Linked DNA regions of Homo sapiens: region 2 is linked to region 1. The links come from fine-mapping of genetic effects on gene expression. Tissue or cell type: tibial artery. Region 1 holds a variant in brackets; the other region holds the start of a gene. All regions are shown on one strand. Distances are from middle to middle.

What was found. PIP is the estimated chance that this variant, and not a neighbour inherited with it, causes the effect.
Region 2: it holds the start of MN1, and the variant in region 1 is fine-mapped to the expression of MN1 in tibial artery (GTEx, PIP above 0.99).

What each region holds. Positions count from the first base shown.
Region 1 is chr22:27,435,399-27,443,201 of GRCh38, reverse strand. It overlaps LOC105372980 (a long non-coding RNA gene), which reads right to left and starts at 6,910. Exons shown (of 3, transcript XR_938123.4): 1 at 6,751-6,910; 2 at 3,157-3,324; 3 at 1,268-1,955. RefSeq lists an enhancer at 4,705-5,368. The variant T/C (reference allele first, on the strand shown) is at 4,828.
Region 2 is chr22:27,798,774-27,803,773 of GRCh38, reverse strand. MN1 (MN1 proto-oncogene, transcriptional regulator) reads left to right here and starts at 2,018. Exons shown (of 2, transcript NM_002430.3): 1 at 2,018-5,000. The coding sequence starts at 3,231. RefSeq lists enhancers at 3,952-4,497, 4,498-5,000.

The DNA of each region.
Region 1 (7,803 bases):
GTGTGTGTCTTTGCAGGTCGAGTGCCTGTGAAGCTGGCCTAAGACTCTGCATTTTAATTAGCTCCAGGTGAAACTGATGCTGCTGGTCCCGGCCACGCTTTGAGGAGCTGGAGTTTAAATGGTAGCCAGGGAAGCATTAAATGCTCAGCCGGTGTCAGGAGACTCGGGTTCTAGCCTTGTGAACTTGGACCACGACCTTGGCCTCTCTGGGACTCGGTCTCCCCAAATGGAAGGGGAGAGGGTCAGCCGTGATGGCCTCTAAGCCACCTCCCCTCTGGCACCCTGTCTTCCCATGTCATCTCCAACCCGTGGCCTTTAAACCACCAGCCAGGATCAAATTGCCAAAGTCGCCTCCGCCATCCTGCCCAGCTGGGAATGATTTTTAAACAAAGCCCACGTTCCTGGTGAGCCTATTGATTTCTGGGTTCCCAAGCCCACCACCACACTGCAGTGTCCTTGCCAAGCCAACAGTGAGGCGTAAACAGACAGCAAAACTCCGGCAAGCGAATAAATAAACAAATCACCACTGCAACCCCACCACGTTCCTCTTCGCCCCGGTGTCTTTTCAAGAACAAGTGTCTTGGTGACAATGTCCAGACATCAGCGGCCCTGCCGGGGAAGAGGGTAGGGCTGGGGCGCTGGCGAGGACAATTGGAATAAAACGGAGGTCAGACCCCCAAGAAGGACCGGCCAACTTCAATCCCATAATGGAAGTCTTGTGGGGGCCGGATTTTGCCTTCGAAGGCTCCCAGTGGACTCTTGTGAAGACAGCAAGCACTGTGCAGGGATAAAGTGGCTTTTAGAACTATTAGAAAGTGGGTGTGCTGGGAATGGGGGGGAAAGGGGGGCCAGGATGGGAACATTAAAATTCTGCTCCTGCCCAGGGTTTCTGGGCTCCAGCTCGCCATGCGAGCATCGATCTGTTCCAGCATTTGACTTTCAACCATGACAAAACTGTGGGCAAATTAATTGTTCTCCAGGATATTAAACATCAGACTCCATTAATCCTTTCTGAGCGAGATGCTTGCTGAATACTAATCGGAAGGGTTCCAGGCTGCCAGGGGGCATTTATCCTGCCACAGAGGCCCCAGTGGGTCCCACCCCTTCTCTCTCCCTTGGGCAGGGGTGCCGAGGGCTGAGCACCCTTCTCCACACCATGTGTTACCTTTATTTCCCTTTGTGGCCGGGGACAGAGGGGGAACAGGTGGACGCGACCTGAAACCTTCCCCACCCCCACCTGGGCGTCTTCTTCCCAGGAAGCCGTGGGACTGGTAGCAAGATTGTTTTATGCAAATTCCAATATCTGTATGCAGCCACGGCCGTGAGGATGAACACAAGAAATAATTGCCAAATTATGCACGTTGAGTTGGTTTTCCTGAGTCTCGAGCCCTTAAAAGATAAAGAAGAAACACAGCGACGAGAGTGTCTAAAACAGACAAACAACCTCTTGGCTCTGGTCGCCCAAGGTGGGTGGGCCACCGCGTTGGCTGAGGACAGAACAGAACGGAATCTTTGTGGGTTTTGAGGGGGATGGAGTGGTAGGCCCTGCATGGGAGTCAGGGGGTCTGAGCTCCAGGCTGCCACCAAATTGCAAGGTGTCTTTGAGCAAGTCACTTCCCTTCTTGCAGCCTCAGTTTCCCATTTGCAGAAGGGGAAGATAGCCAAAGCCTGACAATGCTGTCATTTGAAATGTGGATGGGGCGTAGCGGGGGGATCCCACTGGGCTCGAGGCAGGGCTGACCAAATGGGCACAGCAGGGGTCTGTGGGGACAGGGAAGATCTCTGGGGCTTCAGCTTGCTCTGCAAATCGCGCTTGTCTCTTTTTCTATGGCAACAACTCTTTTATCCATAGGGTTTTGGTGCAATCAACTCATGTCAGGGAGGCTGGTTGAGAACATGATCCCATTTCACAGAGTGCAGCTCACAGCAGCAGAGGGTCAAGCCAAAGCTATGTCCTGTAGGAGGCAGAACAAGGATTAGACTGCCTATCTGTACTGTCATCCTGGGACAATTCTATCCTCTTCGCACCCCAAGCTACCTCTCCTGGTTAGGTGCTTCCTTCCCATATGGGGAGCTCAGTACTGCCCAGAAAAGAATGCGGTTCTTGCTTCCCATAATCCCAAAGTATCCCCTACACCAGCCCTCACCTGGGCTCTCATCCCAATTTAGCGAAATCCAGGTCTGTCACAGGACCCCTAAATTACCACTCCCACCGCGACCCCCATCATCCCATACATTATAAAGCACTTTGCACTAAGCTCCTTCCATGCCTCATCCCACTGACTGCTCACAACCACTTTTTAAGGGGAGGGTCCTATTATGATTCTTGCTTTCTGAGGCTCAGAGAAGCCAAGCCACTTGTCCAAGATCACACAGTAAGTCAGTGACTGTGCTGGGATTCAAACTTGCATCTGTCTGACTTCAAAGCCCACTGGCTATACTATGTATGTATCTCATCTTTAATTCTTCTTTCCTCCTGGTCTGGAGGGTGGCAGAGGCTTTCCTCACCCTTCGCACTCCTTCCTGTTTCCACCACTTCCCATTTCTCTCAATCTATGTTTTTGGACTGCTGTGGGCAGAGAGAAAACAGTGCCAGCAACTCACTAACTGTGAGGATATTTATGCCTCTGCAAACACCACACAAGCCTTTTGCATGATTTGGGGCTAAATGCAGTGTTACTTAATTAATGCACATGTAACACTCGAGAATATTACACCTATTAGAACTCATGGACAATTAACACTCAACGGGCTGCTGCCACAACCACGTCACATAGACAAAGGCTCCAGAAGCGCCTCGGTGCTGAATCAATTGCCCAGGGAAAATGCCTCCTCCCTCCTGCACTTTGTCTACTTTTGCCACCTTGACCTCAGTGTCTTCCTCTTCCCCTTTCATCTTTAACTTTTCTGTATTTAGCCTTTTAGCTTGGACAATTTGGCATCATGACGTATTAAAATGATGACATATAAAACCTCGTATTATACTTTATATTACATATAATACATTTCTGCTTTGGGAGTGTTTTGTGCAAACAAGTCTCTAGGCTCTGTGCTGCCAGGGCTTCTGGGTCATCAAATATTTTGAATTTCCTGCTTTCCCAAAGAGACTGATTTTCTTTCTCATTTTAATATTTATAATAGGAAAAGAAGAGTCACCTTCTCCAGGAAGCATCCCGTGATTTCTTCAGCACTTTCTCATACTTCTCATACTTCTCTCTACTGATACCCTCCAGTGCTTAAGACATCATAGACTCTATGTGGCCTGGATCCCCGTTGTCTCCCCGCCTGATGGGGGCGTATCCCAGAGGGCCCCAATTCTCACAGCTGTGAAATGAAACCCAGAAAACCTTTCCATCCACTCTCTGGGGCTGCAGGGAGAGCGGAGTAAGATTTGGTGCTATGCAAACCCACAGCTGAGTTTGATGCAGCATCTTCTCGGTACATTCACCTTTCCAATCTGTCAAATGGGTGTGCTGATCCCATCCTTGAAAGCTTGGCTGAGTGTTAAAGGAACCATCATCACATGTAAGGAGCCTAGCCTACTGCCAAGCACTGTGGTAAGCGACGCAGAGCCTGAATTACATAAATCAGGAGTCCCCACCCCCATTCCAAAAATAGTTGTTGAGTGCCTACTGTGTGCAAGGGCTGCAATGCAGATTAAGATACACATGACCCCCTGCTTCAGGAGGCGTCCAGTCTAGTGGGAGTGATAGGCAGTAAACCCACAAACAAGTAAGTAAATGGATAATCCTGGCACATGCTATATGTTCGGAAGGAAATATCTGAATGACAAGATGGTAATGGATAAGATTTTTCCTGGGGTGGTCAAGGAGGGCTTCCTGGAGGAGGTGTCTTTTGGGCAGAGGCTAAAGAAAGAGAAAGAGTTGACAGGTGACAAGGAGGATAAATAGCTTCAAGTGGTTGGTGCTCTGCCCATATCCTCCTGTCACTCACCACTCGCCTGCAAGGTGGGGAGATGTCTGCAGGCGCCTGCTTGGCCCCAGTGTAGAAGGAAGAGGAGTGTAGGGAATAAATGCCCCTTCCTGGGGGAAGCAGCCCTCCACCAATGACAGATGGGAGCTGGAGTATAAATACCCTGGTTTCCTTGCTCCTTGGGCGGATGACTCTGAGGTGAGTGTTCTTGCAAAAGGTCCTCAGCACAACTGAGCCCCAGTCACCCACAGCAAAAACTGGCTGCTTAATGGCAGCCAGACTTGACCACCTCCCCTCTTTGCCTCAAGTCCCCATCCCCTGTTGATACATCCTGGGATCCCCCTCCCAGATAAACTAGCCCTGCAGTGCTTATCTCGAAGTCTGCTGGTGACACCTCCCAAGCAGACACCTCAGGGGTCAGTGAGTGGCAGATCGCCCTGGGCTCCCAGGTTGAGGTTCCTCTAGAATCCTCCCAAGAGGCCTCACTCAGTCTCCACCCCAAGGCCCCGCCTGCCCAGGCCTGGGGGATTAGCAGAGTCCCCAGGGCTGGCCTTCAGATCCATCCCCAGACACTATTTCCAAAAAGGATTAAATAAATACGTCCAGCGGGAGGGGGAGCTCCGGCTTTCACTGCCCGCTGGCGGGAAATTAAATAATGTTCGTTTCTGCTGCTGTGAGCCGGAACAAGGCTGGCCGAGCTGCAGGGCTGGGCCAGGAGGCGGCCGCGATTGGCAGCTTGTGGTAAGCCCTAAATCAAAGGAGCCGATGAGATTTCTAATAGCAGGAGCGCGACTGGCATCGGCGTATAAATAAAGCTCCCCTCTTGAAAGACAGCTTATTCTAGCCTTGCCGCCAAGGATATTAAGCCTGGAGGACTGGTGGCTGTGGCCAGGC[T/C]GGACCCCCGCCAGAAGCCAGCTGGGCTGGGGAGGCTCGAGTCCTTCCCCAGCTGCTGCCCTGGCTGCCCCTGAAACAGTCCCCAGGGTTCAGCTCCTGGCCATGCCCAGCCCCTAGCTGGGTGGATGTGTGTGGTGTGTGTTTGCAGGGCAGATTTTATCATTCCCATTGCCCAGATGAGCACACCAAGATTCTGGGGGTAGGTGTTCTGCCAGAGGTCACACAGAACGTCAGCGGTCCCTTTCTAGGTGAAGGGCAGGGAAGGGGAGATTCAGAGTCATGTCTGATTCCACATCTCACAGTGGTCAAATGGGCGCAAACTGTCCCATGGAGGATCTGGAGCCACTTCTCAGGCTGGCCAGCCCCTGCCTCTCTGTTCTGCATCCCAGGCTGCTCCTTGCAGAAATGAGCCAGCCCCGGCACTTACTCCCAGGTACCTGCTGTCCCAGGCGGGCAGAAGGAAACATGTCTTCAAACAACCCTCATGATCCCCTCCTGTGGGCTCCAGTCTAGTCTGGTGGCTGGGCCCATAAGCTCTGGAACCAGACTGCCTGGGATTGGATTTTGTCTCCACTGCCCTGGCTGTGTGGCCTTTTACAAGTTGCCTAACTTCTCTGGGCCTCAGCTTCCTCATCTGTGAAGTGGGGATAATAACAGCACCTGCCTTCTGGTGTTGATGTGGGAATTAAATAAGATGATTCATGTAGAGGACTCAGCTCAGACGTACACCAATAAGTGTCCTATAAGTTCGTGCTTTCATTTATCACCATTCATTCATTCATTCATTCACTCATTCACTGCTGTGACTGCAGGGCCTCACGCATGACTGGTGTTCTATAAGTATTTAATATCTTATAATAATAATAGTTACTATACATTTATATAATAAAAATAAATAGTTTATTATTATTATTCATTAGAGACAGGACCTGACTCTGTCACCCCAACTGGAGTGCAGTAGTACAATCGTAGCTCACTGAAGCCTCAACCTCCTGGGCTCAAGTGATCCTCCCACCTCAGCCTCCGTAGTAGCCAGGACTACAGGCATGTGCCACCACACCTGGCTAATTTGTTTTTATTTTTTATTTTTATTTATGTAGAGACGGGGTTTCACTATGTTGCCCAGGCTGGTCTTGAACTCTTGGCCTTGAGGGATCCTCCTGTCTCAGCCTCCCAAAGTGGATTTCCTGTGATTAGACATGCAATCGTAGTGCTGGGTGCTGCGGGCTTCAGCAGGGGCAAAGGGGACCATGGCAGGTTCGGGCCTGTCACGGAGCCTAGGGTCCAAAAATCCCCAGGAAGATATTGAATGAGGCTTCCTAGAGGTAATAGGTGTCATAAAAAGGATGTGCAGGGCTACACGAGTGAAATCCTATCTGCTGGGGTCAGAGAGGCCTTTTCCAGGAGGGGTCATCTCCCAAGGGGCCTTTGGGTCAGAGGAAGAGTGTTCCAGGCAGGGGGTGTGCATGGGCAAAGGCCATGAAACAGGGAGGAGCAGTGGTGCCCTGTCCCGTGAGTCCCTCTGTGAGTCAGGCTCTAGGGCAGGTCAGGAAACTAGCAGGACGCAGGAGGGCTCAGTGTCCTGTGTGCGCATTTTGCAGATGGGCAAACTGAGCCTGAGATAACCCAACAGGCAAAGCCAGAATGGATCGGGGTTTGTTGCCTTCTGCTCCAGCACTCTTCTCCAGGGAGGACAAGCTCACGACAGCTAGGAGAGGTTCAAGCCATGAGCTGACGGGTGTGCAAGTCTCAGCTCAGCGAATTTCTCTGAAGCCCCAGGAATGAGGCACAGGAGCCCCGTTTAACAGAGGGGGAAGCTGATACTTGGTAAGTTCTATCACTGCAGTCAGCAAAGGAGTTTGGATTCAAACCCACAGTCAAATGCTGGAACCTGGCCTCATACCCCTGGGCTGTCTGTCCTACCTGGGGAGGAGGGATTGCAGAGCTGAGCCAGACCCTCAGGCAGTGGTTTCTTTTCTGTCCTTCCTGGGCCATGAACACCTCTCCAGCCCTGGCCGCAGCCGCTGAGGACAGACACTAGGGTCTTTCTCCCTCCCTCTTTCTTCCTCCTTCCATTGTCTCCAGATTCTGGTTCCATTTCAGAATCTGACTTCACAGGGTCTGACCCTTTTGTGCAAATTCCAAAGCCCTTTTCTTTGTGATTATAATTTTTTTTTTTTTTTTTTTTTTGGAATCCAACATCTCTTGACAGGAAAATCGGTGCTTGAGGTTGGAGAAGTTTGCTGCATTCTCCATGTGAAAGCCATTACGGGCCTGTCCGGGACGGAGCCCACGCATGTGTGCACACACACGGTCTGACTGCCTTCCTTGCGCCCTGGAAAAGTGCGTCCAGCTGTCAGCCTGGAGCCCGCCCGGCCGGATGTAATGCAAACCAGGCAGCCGGGAAGAAGTGCGTGCTTTAATCAGGGCTCACAGCTGCTCGGCCCCAGCCCCGCTTCCATCAGGTGTCTGTTCTCACTCTGGGTGGGGGGCTCCTCTGTGGCTGCAAATACAGCCGGGGTTGGGGCCTGGTGGTCCCGGGTGGGGGCTTCCTAGCTGGTTTAGGACCCTCTAGGTGGCATGTGCTTTGGAGCTAAAGGTAGGGGATCTGGCAAAGGCGATGCTGGTGGAGGCAGGGAGGCAGAGGGCAGCCCCCAAATTAGGTGAGTGTGTGAAGGGCATGAGTAGGCCTGCAAGAAAGGTGCAGAAGAGAGGGGAAGGGCTTTAGGAGCAAAAGGGAGGACAAGGAGACAATTGAGGTAAGGGAGAGAGAATGATGGAGATGGTGTGGGAGGGAAAAGGAGGTAGAGAAATGAAGAAAGAGAGAGTGAGCCCCTGAGAAAGAGACAGAGAGAGAGTCTTAGGAGTAGGGGCAAGGAGAGGAAGGATTAAGGAGAGAATTTTTTTAAATGGAGAGAGACAAACAGAGAAGAGCAAGTAAGGGCCAGAAAAAAAAGAAAACCGAAAAAGATCCTG
Region 2 (5,000 bases), 360 kb before region 1:
AATTCCATTTCTTTTCTAGTTCTGAAACCTCTAAGCTATCAGCAAGAGGATAGTTCACATGAAAACTAATTACACAAAATCAATATTTAATCACAGACCAACAACCTGATCCTGCAGAAAAATCCTTTAAAAACTCCACCGCCCTGTACAAATACTTATTCCCTATGCTTATTTATGGACCCCATTTTTGATGGGGGTAATTTTCATTTTTAATTTCAAAAAAGAAAAAATATATATGTCTGTAAACTTCCACAACAGGAAGGCCCCGGGAAAGGTCTTGGATCTGAGCTTGCTCTGGCTGAGTTTTAAAGTTGTTGTTTTTTCTTGTTTGTTTATTTTTAATTAAAATTTTTTTTGGGCGGGGGGCAATTTCTTAGGAATTCTGCCGCTACCCCAAAGTTGAGCCCATTTCCCCCCACCCCCGGCATGTCGGTTCTGGCATACTTAGCACTGCCTTCCTAGCCGCAACTCAGGGGAGCAATGAATCTGCGCGTACGACATGGTAACTTTTTAACTCCTGCCCGCGACGGTGGAGTGCTTAATCTAAGGTTTTTAAATAAAAAGGGCTCAGGGGTTGGTTTTATTATAACGTTTATTTCATTTCAGATTTCATGCGTAATTTAGCAAACGCTAGACAGACTCGGGCGATAAACACTTTCTTTTGTGGGGGGGGAAAGGCATTTTCATACACCACGCTTAATTTTATTTAGATTTAATAGCGATATCAGGGGCACTTCAAAGAAAGTTCTTTTTTCGCCCTTCTCCTAAGAATGCGAATCTGCTAGCAAAATCGCCTCGTGCTATTTTATGGCAAGGAAAATTAAAGGCCTTCTCCCCCCTCCTTCCCTACACACACTTTAGGGAGGAACACACACACACACACACACGCATGCACAAACACACGCACGCAGGCGCGAGCACACGCACACAGGCGCACAGAATAAACACCTCTATCCTCCATCACCTCTAACTTCCAACTTCTAATTGCAAGATAGATTTCAGCCTCTGTGGGGATCAGGACGATCTAAACATTTTAACTAAGATTATTGGGATAAATATTTCATAAAGAGCAGGGCAGATATTAAATTACTCCTATTGATTTTAGTATCACAGCCCAATTCCATTCCTCGGCCTCTTCAGTTTAATTGATCTCTTAAGGAGGCCAACTTCGCACCCGCAGAGGGTCTGGGTCTTGGACCGGGTGGCCCAGGGCAAGGTGTGCGGCCCGGCGGGTGCGCCCTCTTCGTGCGTGTCTTCTCGGGGTTCCCAGCCGCCTCGCAAGTCGCTCCGGTTACTGGGCTCAACCGATGTGCTCCCCCATAAAGTGGCTGAGTGACTGTGACTCCTTGGAGCCCACGCCGGCCGGTGAGAACCGGGAACCCCAGGCAGTGGGGAAGGGGAACAATTGTGAACGCCCTAGTGACGGAGGAGTGAGCAAGCGCCCAGGTCTCTCGAGGAGAACCCTAACTTCGAGGTTCCCCGTCTGCTTTACCCTCCAAGAAAATCCCAGGGCCGGCTAACTTGGGCGCCGCTAGCGGAGAACGGAGTGTTCACCCCGGAGCCGAAGTGCAGTAGACACTTAGCGACTTTCCGTGGCGAGTCTAGGGTCTTTGCCTGGCGACCTCATTGTCTGAGCGCCCCGTACCGCTCACCGCCCACCTCCCCGCCCCCTGCCCACCCGGTGGGTCTCGCTCCAGTTGGGGGTGGGGAGTTGGGAACAGTGTGAATGGGAAGGGGGTGAACAAAGCCAAGCTCCCGCCATTCTCCTCCGCCTGCACCCTCTCCAGCTCGATGCGCCCGGAGGCCGGGGCGCGCCCCCAGCGCACTGACGCCGGACCCCGAGGAGAGGCGGGCGCAGGGGACCCCAGAGCTGGGGTAGTGCGGGTTCGTGGCGGGGGCTTCGGCAGCCAGGACCCCGGACCACCTTAAGAGCGAGCCCCGCCCCGAGCCCGGAACTTGGGCGGCGCTGATTGGTGCAAATGTAATGGCTGAAATTGATTGCTGAAATGCAAAACTTGTTGCTGCTTCTCCCGGCGCTGGGCGAGAGGCAGACACAGAGAGGGGAGCCGAGACCCTCGGAACGCCCCACGCAGAGCCCCCCCGCTAGTCGGGAGAGGGGTGCGCAGACCCCCCAGAGCTGCCCCCGCGCCCCCCTCCCCCCATTCCGGGCTCTGAGAGCGCAGCGGGAACGCCTTAGCCTGCTCGCCCGGCGTGGCCCCCCGACCCGCGTACGCCCCCCTCCCTCAGGTCCGAGAGGGACTCGCGAAGCACCTCAGCGCGGAGGCAGGGAACCGGAGCCTTGGAGCGACCCAACCCCTCGTCTCGCTGCCCTCCCGCGCCTGCAACGGTGCGCGGAGACTCCGGCGAACTCAGACACCCAACGGCGGAGAACAGAAGCGGCAGGCGGCGGACGTGGCCGCGAAGCTGCGCGCCGAACGCAGCGCACCCGCTGCCGAGCAGAGGAGCCGCGCCTTTCCCCGACCCTCGGCTCCAGCCCCCGGCGCCTGCCGCCTCGCAGCCCCTCTGCGTCCTCGGCTCGGGGGCCGGCACCGGCGATGCCGAGCGGAGCCTCCAGTCCTCCGACCCGCTGAAGAAGCAGCAGCCGCTCGCCCGGAGCCTACGGGGATTGTGCGAGCGGATCGTGCTCGGTGGAGGCTCGGGCTGCGGGGCGCGGGGACTCCGGGGGGCGGGGGGAGGGACCGCTCTGTCGGTGCCCGGCGCCAGCCGCGGCTTTGAAGGGTCTCCCTCCCCTGCCCTTAGCAGCTCTGCCACGGACTCCGGGAGGCTGCGGGCGGCGTCCTGAGGGCTCCCCAGCAGACCCAATCGGACTTGAGAAGGTGATCGCTCTGCTCTCCCAACCCCCTTCCCTCCCCATTCCCCCCACTTAACTTTTTGTCTCCGTTCATCCGCGGCTTCGTCCCCTCCCCGCAGACCCACCCGCGGCTGTGACAACCGCCCGGGGCATGGGCCCCCCAACACGGCTCCTAGAGGCCCCGCGGCCTCGCAAGATGTGAGAGGCCCTCCCCGGGCAGAATCGGAGCTTCAGGAGAGGAGCTAATACCCCGCCCCCCGTCCCTCACATCAGGCGGGGTGGAGGTGCGCGCTGAGCCCCCGCGGTGCTGAGCGTCCCGGAGCGCCCAATCCTGGGCTGGAACGAGTAGCTGGCCGGAGGCGCGCCGCGGAGAGCCGGCTGTCATGCCCTATTGATCCCCCTCTGCCCCCCGCCAAGTATGTTTGGGCTGGACCAATTCGAGCCCCAGGTCAACAGCAGGAACGCTGGCCAGGGCGAGAGGAACTTTAACGAGACCGGACTGAGCATGAACACCCACTTTAAGGCCCCGGCTTTCCACACTGGGGGGCCCCCTGGCCCTGTGGATCCTGCTATGAGCGCGCTGGGCGAACCCCCGATCTTGGGCATGAACATGGAGCCCTACGGCTTCCACGCGCGCGGCCACTCGGAGTTGCACGCAGGGGGGCTGCAAGCGCAGCCTGTGCACGGCTTCTTTGGCGGCCAGCAGCCTCACCACGGCCACCCGGGAAGTCATCATCCCCACCAGCATCACCCCCACTTTGGGGGCAACTTCGGTGGCCCGGACCCCGGGGCCTCGTGCCTGCACGGGGGTCGCCTGCTCGGCTACGGCGGCGCAGCCGGAGGCCTGGGCAGCCAGCCGCCCTTCGCCGAGGGCTATGAGCACATGGCGGAGAGCCAGGGGCCTGAGAGCTTCGGCCCGCAGCGACCGGGGAACCTCCCGGACTTCCACAGTTCAGGTGCCTCCAGCCACGCCGTGCCGGCCCCATGCCTGCCGCTGGACCAGAGCCCTAACCGAGCCGCCTCCTTCCACGGCCTGCCGTCCTCCAGCGGCTCCGATTCCCACAGTCTGGAGCCACGGAGGGTGACGAACCAAGGAGCCGTCGACTCGCTGGAATACAATTACCCGGGCGAGGCGCCCTCGGGACATTTTGACATGTTTTCGCCCTCTGACTCCGAAGGGCAGCTGCCTCATTATGCAGCGGGTCGCCAGGTTCCTGGGGGCGCTTTCCCGGGCGCCTCGGCCATGCCCAGAGCTGCGGGCATGGTGGGCTTGTCCAAAATGCACGCCCAGCCACCGCAGCAGCAGCCCCAGCAGCAGCAGCAGCCCCAGCAGCAGCAGCAGCAGCATGGTGTGTTCTTTGAGAGGTTCAGTGGGGCCAGAAAGATGCCTGTGGGTCTGGAGCCCTCAGTGGGCTCCAGGCACCCGTTAATGCAGCCTCCCCAGCAGGCCCCGCCACCCCCTCAGCAGCAGCCCCCGCAGCAGCCGCCACAGCAGCAGCCGCCGCCGCCACCCGGGCTTCTAGTCCGACAAAATTCGTGCCCGCCTGCGCTCCCTCGGCCCCAGCAGGGCGAGGCGGGCACGCCCAGCGGCGGCCTGCAGGACGGAGGCCCCATGCTGCCCAGCCAGCACGCGCAATTCGAGTATCCCATCCACCGGCTGGAGAACCGGAGCATGCACCCTTATTCCGAGCCTGTTTTCAGCATGCAGCATCCTCCTCCGCAGCAGGCGCCCAACCAGCGGCTGCAGCATTTCGACGCGCCCCCCTACATGAACGTGGCCAAGAGGCCGCGCTTCGACTTTCCGGGCAGCGCGGGAGTGGACCGCTGCGCTTCGTGGAACGGCAGCATGCACAACGGCGCTCTGGATAATCACCTCTCCCCTTCCGCCTACCCAGGCCTACCCGGCGAGTTCACACCGCCTGTGCCCGACAGCTTCCCTTCGGGGCCGCCCCTGCAGCATCCGGCCCCGGACCACCAGTCCCTGCAACAGCAGCAGCAGCAGCAGCAGCAGCAGCAACAGCAGCAGCAGCAGCAGCAACAGCAACAGCAACAGCAGCAGCAGCAGCAGCGCCAAAACGCGGCCCTCATGATTAAGCAGATGGCGTCGCGGAATCAGCAGCAGCGGCTGCGCCAGCCCAACCTGGCTCAGCTAGGCCACCCCGGGGACGTGGGCCAGGGCGGCCTGGTG